2 linked regions of the Homo sapiens genome follow. Each later gene encodes a partner of the first gene's protein in a complex. Each region holds a gene or a part of one and is shown on either strand. Other genes may lie near its edges.

What was found. Proteins that work in one complex are often made in the same cells at the same time.
Region 2: the proteins of BCL9 (region 1) and CTNNB1 are in contact, whole or in part, in a crystal structure (PDB 3SL9), measured with the Homo sapiens proteins. Residues at the interface, in NP_004317.2 of Homo sapiens: Asp349, Leu351, His358, Arg359, Ser362, Leu363, Thr365, Leu366, Ile369, Gln370, Met372, Leu373; in NP_001091679.1 of Homo sapiens: Leu148, Arg151, Ala152, Glu155, Leu156, Leu159, Asp162, Asp164, Val166, Val167, Lys170, Ala171, Met174, Leu178.

What each region holds. Positions count from the first base shown.
Region 1 is NC_000001.11:147,614,484-147,618,232, reverse strand, and holds part of BCL9 (B-cell CLL/lymphoma 9 protein), read right to left. Parts: coding exon 3,617-3,749; intron 2,431-3,616; coding exon 2,331-2,430; intron 1-2,330. UniProt on the Homo sapiens protein: Involved in signal transduction through the Wnt pathway. Promotes beta-catenin's transcriptional activity.
Region 2 is NC_000003.12:41,223,356-41,227,104, reverse strand, and holds part of CTNNB1 (catenin beta-1), read right to left. Parts: intron 3,085-3,749; 5' UTR 3,037-3,084; coding exon 3,024-3,036; intron 2,916-3,023; exon of another isoform or gene 2,784-2,915; intron 2,580-2,783; coding exon 2,352-2,579; intron 2,152-2,351; coding exon 1,898-2,151; intron 1,772-1,897; coding exon 1,533-1,771; intron 1,446-1,532; coding exon 1,244-1,445; intron 1-1,243. UniProt on the Homo sapiens protein: Key downstream component of the canonical Wnt signaling pathway.

The sequences.
Region 1 (3,749 bases):
AGGAGGCCTGACATCTCTGGTTTCCGTTTTTGGTTGGTGATCACTGATTCCACATTTGATAAGAATTTGTACATTAACTGTAGTGAGATAATCTGCAGGCAGGAAGCTTCTGTGGAGAAATCTGAGGCTATCTAGCTCATGGTGTCTCTTGAACTGTTCTTTCCAATAGGCAGTAGACTGCCCTTTTTTAATATGCTGGATGATTGCCTTATTATTGTTTATTAAGTACCACTGCTATACTAAGTCCAGGGTAGAAGCACACTCACCTACAATAGGTGACATGGACACCTTGAATGTTTGGAAGAGAGATGTGTATGTTCTGGGTCTAAACCAAGAGCACTGCTGAAATATAAGAGGGCACTGATGAACAGAAGGACTTGATCTACAAACCCTGTCTCAGAGACCTTTCACCAAAGGCCTTTCTCCAGACCCTTTTTTCCGTGTTCATTTGCTCCTACTTGTTCGCTTAATCCAGTCTGTATTTCCAAACCCTTCAGGCTCTTACCTCCTCACCTACTCTCTGGAATGTTTACCTGTGTGCAAATATGTAAACAAATAATTACGTGTATCTCTGCATATGAACAATTTGTGTTGTATACACATGAAAACATATCTTTGAGCACTTATATTCTGTGAATATATATATAAATGTTGGATTTTGAGGTATCCATGCACTTCTGCCTATAGGTAAAGAGTTGTGTGGGTAAGATCAGCTGAATCTTGTATGATTCTGTACAGTTAAAAGTATATTTCATATCCACACTCCTAACTGGAGTGTAGAGGTCACCTTGATTTTCCTTCTAGTGCCATTTTAAGTTTGGTTTTGTTGGTCAGGTTTTGTTTGTTGTGGGTGGATACTGATTTCATATAACGAAACCATGACGTCAGAAAACATTTAGATGTGGAACAATGGATTATTCCCAATTCCTTCCTTAACTCCTTTCCTGATTTTAGTACCAGAGAAGGTGTAGGTGTAGGTATTAAGGTGTAGGTATTAAGAACTGCCATTAAGTCAATAAAAGGTTGGTTTCAGTTACACTGTACTATATTCATTCCAGGACAATAAGCATTTTAAATATAACTGTATGCATCTTCTACCCTTGAGTAGTCAAGATGCATGGGGAATATGAAATTCCTTTTCTAAGTTTAGGAAGGCCTAAGCTCTGCTTATGTCTACAAAGATGGAGACTTTTCTGATACACAAAATAGGAAAGATGTCACCTATTTTATCTTGAATTGTCACTTTGATCATTTATTGTCAATTAACTTTTCCCATGTTTAAGACTCATCCCAGTATTAGATTTCATGCTCCCTGAAAGCAGGGACTGTGTCTTGAACTTCTTAGTATCCCCCATAGCATTTGGTGCAATGGCTTGACGATGCCAGATACAAGAAGTATCTTTTGGTTCAATTTGGTAAACTACATGCATTAAAACATCCACTGTATGCTTTTTTTTTTTGAGACAGAGTCTCACTCTTATCACCCAGGCTGGAGTGCAGTGCAGTGGCACAATCTCGGCTCACTGCAAGCTCCGCCTCCCAGGTTCAGGCCATTCTCCTGCCTCAGCCTCCCAAGTAGCTTGGACTACAGGCACCCGCCAGCATGCCCGGCTAATTTTTTGTATTTTTAGTAAAGACGGGGTTTCACTGGGTTAGCCAGGATGGTCTCAATCTCCTGACCTTGTGATCCGCCTGCCTCGGCCTCCCAAAGTGCTGGGATTACAGGCATGAGCCACCACGCCCGGCCACTGTATGCTTTTTCTAATGGAGTTTATAGCAGGTGCTTAAGATCCAGATAGAAAACAGACTAACATTTATTACAATTTTACAAATATCAAGCAATTAAAAACATTCAATGGTCTTATCACTTTGAAATAAATATGAATCACTCTGAAAGTCGATGAGGCTCTGATTATGATACTGTCATCATGTACTCTAGAAGTTTTAATTGTTGCTTTTTTTCTGTTCTTTCTTTGTTATTCAACTAGCTCAAGAGTGTTATTTTTAAAAAACCTGCTCTGTACACAGGGTCTGAATTTAGATTTTCCCAGAGACGATTACATGAAGGAAACCCAAAGATATCTGTATAGCTCCTCTTTTAGTTTGCATCTTCTTCCCCCTAGTAATTCATCAATCTACCAGCTTTCTCGTAGAAAAGGCTAGTATAGTATGATATGCCTAATGCCCCACAATGCCAGAATTAGGTTAAATGCCAAGAATGCAACTCATGCCATCAAGACTACCTTCCTATCAATTAAATTCACCACCTCCTTTCCTTTGCAGTCACTGTAGAATCATTAAACCATTACTCAGTTTCTGAAACAACATACCAGAGGCGCTGTGCTTCTCTCTGTCTTGTTGTTAGAAATGTTCTGGATGTGGAAAGAGACGATAGTTTCAACCTGGCCCTTCAAAACAGCTTCTGCAGCTCTGCAAAGATGGAAGAGACAGCACACACTAGAACTTGTTTCTATTTCACTAACTGTAATTCCAAAGCACTTTAACCACACAATAAACTTGTAAGGGAGAGGAAGGAATAGAAAGAACCACCAGAAATGTTGAAGAAGAAATCAAGACAAACATGTTTCATTATTTATATTTACCACTTATCATCAAACTTCTAAAATTAAAAGACAGCCATTAGCAAATCCCAAAAGAGGCATTAAAAGACAAAAACCAAGATTTTCTCCTGAAACTAATCCGCTGTGGTAGGTGTTTTATAGAGAATCCGAGTTCAAAATCCCAACCCAAGAAGGGGGAAGATGAGATCGTACAATACCTAGTGATAGTTTAAGGCTGTTAAGATTCACTTTTTATCTTAAGTGGAAAAAAAGTCAGAAAACCATATATGTAGGGTATAATCACAATTCTGATAAATAAAAATTGATGCATCCATCCACTAAAAATTTATATATAAAAATGTTTACAGTAGTTATCTCTGTGAATTCCAGAGATATTAATTTTTAGTTATACTTTCTAATTATTCTAGAATGGACATTTGTTACTTGTGTTGTTTAGAAAATAATAATAGGTAGGTTGCAGAAAAGTGTGTATTGTGCAATCAACTTCTTCTGTTTAAAAGAGGTATATATGGCCAGGCGCGGTGGCTCATGCCTGTAATCCCATCATTTTGGGAGGCTGAGGCAGGCAGATCACCTGAGGCCAGGAGTTCAAGACCAGCCTCGCCAACATGGTGAAACCCCATCTCTACTAAAAAATACAAAAAATTAGCTGGGTGTAGTGACGGGTTCCTGTAATCCCAGCTAATCAAGAGGCTGAGGCAGATGAATTGCTTGATCCCAGGAGGTGGAGGTTGCAGTGGGCCGAGATCTGCCACTGCACTCCAGCCTAGGCGACAGAGACAGACACCATCTCAAAAAAAAAAAAAGAAAAAGAGATATATATGTATATTTGTACAAGCACGAAAAATTTCTGAAAGGGAAGCAAAGGATGTATTATCAGTGGTTGCCTCTGGGGGAGTTTGGGTTGGGGAGGTTTTATGTTTTATCTGTACTGTTAACTTTAGGTGATAATAAAAGATCAATCTGCAATGGGAATAAGAATTTAGGTCCCCAGACAAGCCCTGCCCAACAGCAAGACACAGCCATCAACTTACTTATTGGCCATCTCAGTAGAAAACACGTACACCACTTTGGCTGGAGTCTTCTGAGCAGGTGTGGGCTCTGTGGCAGTAGTTTGGCCATGGGAGGGGGTAGAAGACCTGGGGGCTGTAGCATTTGATGGGGTCA
Region 2 (3,749 bases), on another chromosome or scaffold:
GCTTGCCATTGGACCTAAATGTATTCCTGGACCCCATCACTCAGACCCCCATACTGGGGCCCTATCCAACTTGTCCTTTTAAAGCATTCCACTCAAATTCAGACATCCCAGTCCTCCAAACAATGTATCAGTTTGGGCCCAATTTCCTTCTTCCCACAGTGATCACACCAAAAGAAAAAAATTTAGAAACTATGTTGGTAGGCAAGAGTAATGCCCTAAGATGAAAGTTATATCAAAACTGATTCACTGAAAATTTGAACCAGAACTGGCACTTAACTCCTCATCATTTGGCCCTTTAATTTTCCTAATTATATCCACCTTAAAAACAGATACCATAAAATGATCATTCATGCTTGTCCTTTCATTCCCTGTATATCTTCCCTTTCAACACTGCCCCAATTTTCTAAAAACAAATTTCATCATTTCAGGCTTCTGCTGAAATTTCCCATTGTGCTTTTAAACATGCTCTACAAAGCCCTATGAGATCTGCTAAGTCTATCTCAATAGCCTCACCTCAAACCTTTCTTCCTCCTTACTATTAGTATTTCTTAAATTCCCAAAACTTTCCATCTCCTTCCTTCGTTTCAAAGATGTTGTTTTCTCACCTAACCTTCACCTAGTGAATCCCTTCTCATCCTTGAACACTGAACTCAACTATCACTTCCTCCAAGAGGTCTCCTTGAACCCTCAAAAAGAGTCAGTTTCAACTTGTGTTATGTGCCCTCATAGCCCCACTTCTTCCCACTACACAAATTAAATATTAGGTTATTATTCCCAACATCTACATCCCACCTAAGAACAAAAGTGTGAAGAGAAGCTTGCCTACCATATCCCTACTACTTCGCATAGTGCTTTACATATGGAAACTCAAAAATTTAAAAGAACAGAAATGAACTGGGCTGCACAGCAGGAGGTAAGTGGCAGGTGAGCGAGCATTACCTGGCTTGAGCTCTACCTCCTGTCAGATCAACTGCACCATGAGAGTCTCATAGGAGTAGAAACCCTAGTGTGGACTGCACATGCGAGGGATCTAGGCTGCACGCTCCCTATGAGAATCTAATGCCTGATTATCTGAGGTGGAATGGTGTCATCCAGAAACCATTCCCACAACCCATTCATGGAAAAACTGTTTTCCACGAAACTGGTCCCTGGTGCCAAAAAGGTTAGGAACACTGCATGGAATGACATGACACTGGAGGTGTCCAATGCTCCATGAAAACCACATAAAGAATAATTCTCTTACCTTGCTTTCTTGGTTGCCATAAGCTAAAATTTGAAGGCAGTCTGTCGTAATAGCCAAGAATTTAACATTTGTTTTGTTGAGCAAGGCAACCATTTTCTGCAGCCCACCAGCTAAACGCACTGCCATTTTAGCTCCTTCTTGATGTAATAAAAGGTTGTGGAGAGTTGTAATGGCATAAAACAACACAGAATCCACTGGTGAACTGGGAAGAAGAAAAAAGCCTCATCAGAAATATTGTGAGTATACTCTTCTACTTTTTAGCTTCAAGCATTCTGACATGTTTTCTTACCCAAGCATTTTCACCAGGGCAGGAATGCCTCCAGACTTAAAGATGGCCAGTAAGCCCTCACGATGATGGGAAAGGTTATGCAAGGTCCCAGCGGTACAACGAGCTGTTTCTACATCATTTGTATTCTGCATGGTACGTACAATAGCAGACACCATCTGAGGAGAACGCATGATAGCGTGTCTGGAAGCTTCCTTTTTAGAAAGCTGATGGACCATAACTGCAGCCTTATTAACCACCACCTGTAATACAGGAATTCAGAAACATCGTTAGTTTTCAAGTACTGGTATTGGGTAGACATTCTGAAACTACTCCCCTTGAGCATTTACTTCAAAGCAGACTAAAAAGCTAGCTATGTCATTGCTTACCTGGTCCTCGTCATTTAGCAGTTTTGTCAGTTCAGGGATTGCACGTGTGGCAAGTTCTGCATCATCTTGATAGTTAATCAAGTTTACAACTGCATGTTTCAGCATCTGTGATGGTTCAGCCAAACGCTGGACATTAGTGGGATGAGCAGCATCAAACTGTGTAGATGGGATCTGCATGCCCTCATCTAATGTCTCAGGGAACATAGCAGCTCGTACCCTCTGAGCTCGAGTCATTGCATACTGTCCATCAATATCTGGAAAAGGTTAATTCAACACTCACTATCCACAGTTCAGCATTTACCTAAGTATTTGCTATCCTAAATGGTAAAAGTGACATTGCTATTACTCTCTTTTCTTCACCACAACATTTTATTTAAACTATTATACACTAACTTTTTAGTTCTCAAAACTGCATTCTGACTTTCAGTAAGGCAATGAAAAATAATACTCTTACCAGCTACTTGTTCTTGAGTGAAGGACTGAGAAAATCCCTGTTCCCACTCATACAGGACTTGGGAGGTATCCACATCCTCTTCCTCAGGATTGCCTTTACCACTCAGAGAAGGAGCTGTGGTAGTGGCACCAGAATGGATTCCAGAGTCCAGGTAAGACTGTTGCTGCCAGTGACTAACAGCCGCTTTTCTGTCTGGTTCCATGGCCATGTCCAACTCCATCAAATCAGCTATAAATACGAAACAGTATTAGCATTAGTAGATTGGAAATGTTACTTTAATTTAAAAAAAAAGAATCTGTGATATGACCCATTGAAATATTTTTAGAAATAAAGTCAAATCTGAAAGACAGCCAAGAAAAGCAGAATGATAGCCAGGGTTAGCTCAGTGATGAAATACCTAATCCCTTAGGGAACCACCTAACAGTTACTCACTGAATCAGTGGAAGAATGGTACTGCATCCAGGCTCCAGAAGCAGTCATCCAGACTAGATTCCTGCTGGTGGCTTGTTTGCTATTTCACCAAGCCATTAGGAGGAGTGAGCAGAAAATGGAGCAAAAGGTAGCCTGACAAGTAAGCAGGGAGAGAGGAAAGCAGGGGGATCTCAGCCAGACTGGCTTAATGGCAACGAAGCAGAGCCCCAATTCAGTAACTAAAGATTTAATGACACAAACCTTGAGTAGCCATTGTCCACGCTGGATTTTCAAAACAGTTGTATGGTATACTTCAAATACCCTAAAAAAAGTTAATCAAAAGTCATTAGGATTTAAATTTAGCTTGATTAATACTCCTAAGTCACTGGGATACCTGTTAAATGTCACTATTACACCCACAAAAAAAACCCATATCCTCTTTTACCAGGTTAGTGAAACGCAGACCTCATGGTCTCCTCCAGACACCTCAACCACAGCTCCATCACTGCTGAACTTCAGTGAAAACTCCTCCTTACCAAAAATGTCTTTTTATTAATAGTATAAATATTAATTATAGATATTCAGGATGGTGATGAAAAAGCACAGAGTTGTAATAATAAAAGCCAGGGAGGGGAAAACACTATTCAAAAATCAGCTGCTCTCTGAATTCCTAAAGGTCTCTCCTTTTTTAACCTTTCACAGAAAAATTCACAGATCCCCTTTGGATAACAGAGGTACAGTGGGATTTTAAAAACTCCACATTTTCTTTAACAAGTTGTTTTCTGATATAGTGCCATCAAAAATTATTTTTCATAAAGCAAATTTTGGTGACTAGAATAGCGAATTTTAGATTTTTTGGTACAAAGAAAAATTACTTTTCAAATGAAAGTTTGCAACACAAAAGCACCTTTATTAGTAAAATTTTTCTAAGTTCAAATTTACAGCAATGATTTATTATAAATACAAATATTACCAATATGGATACAT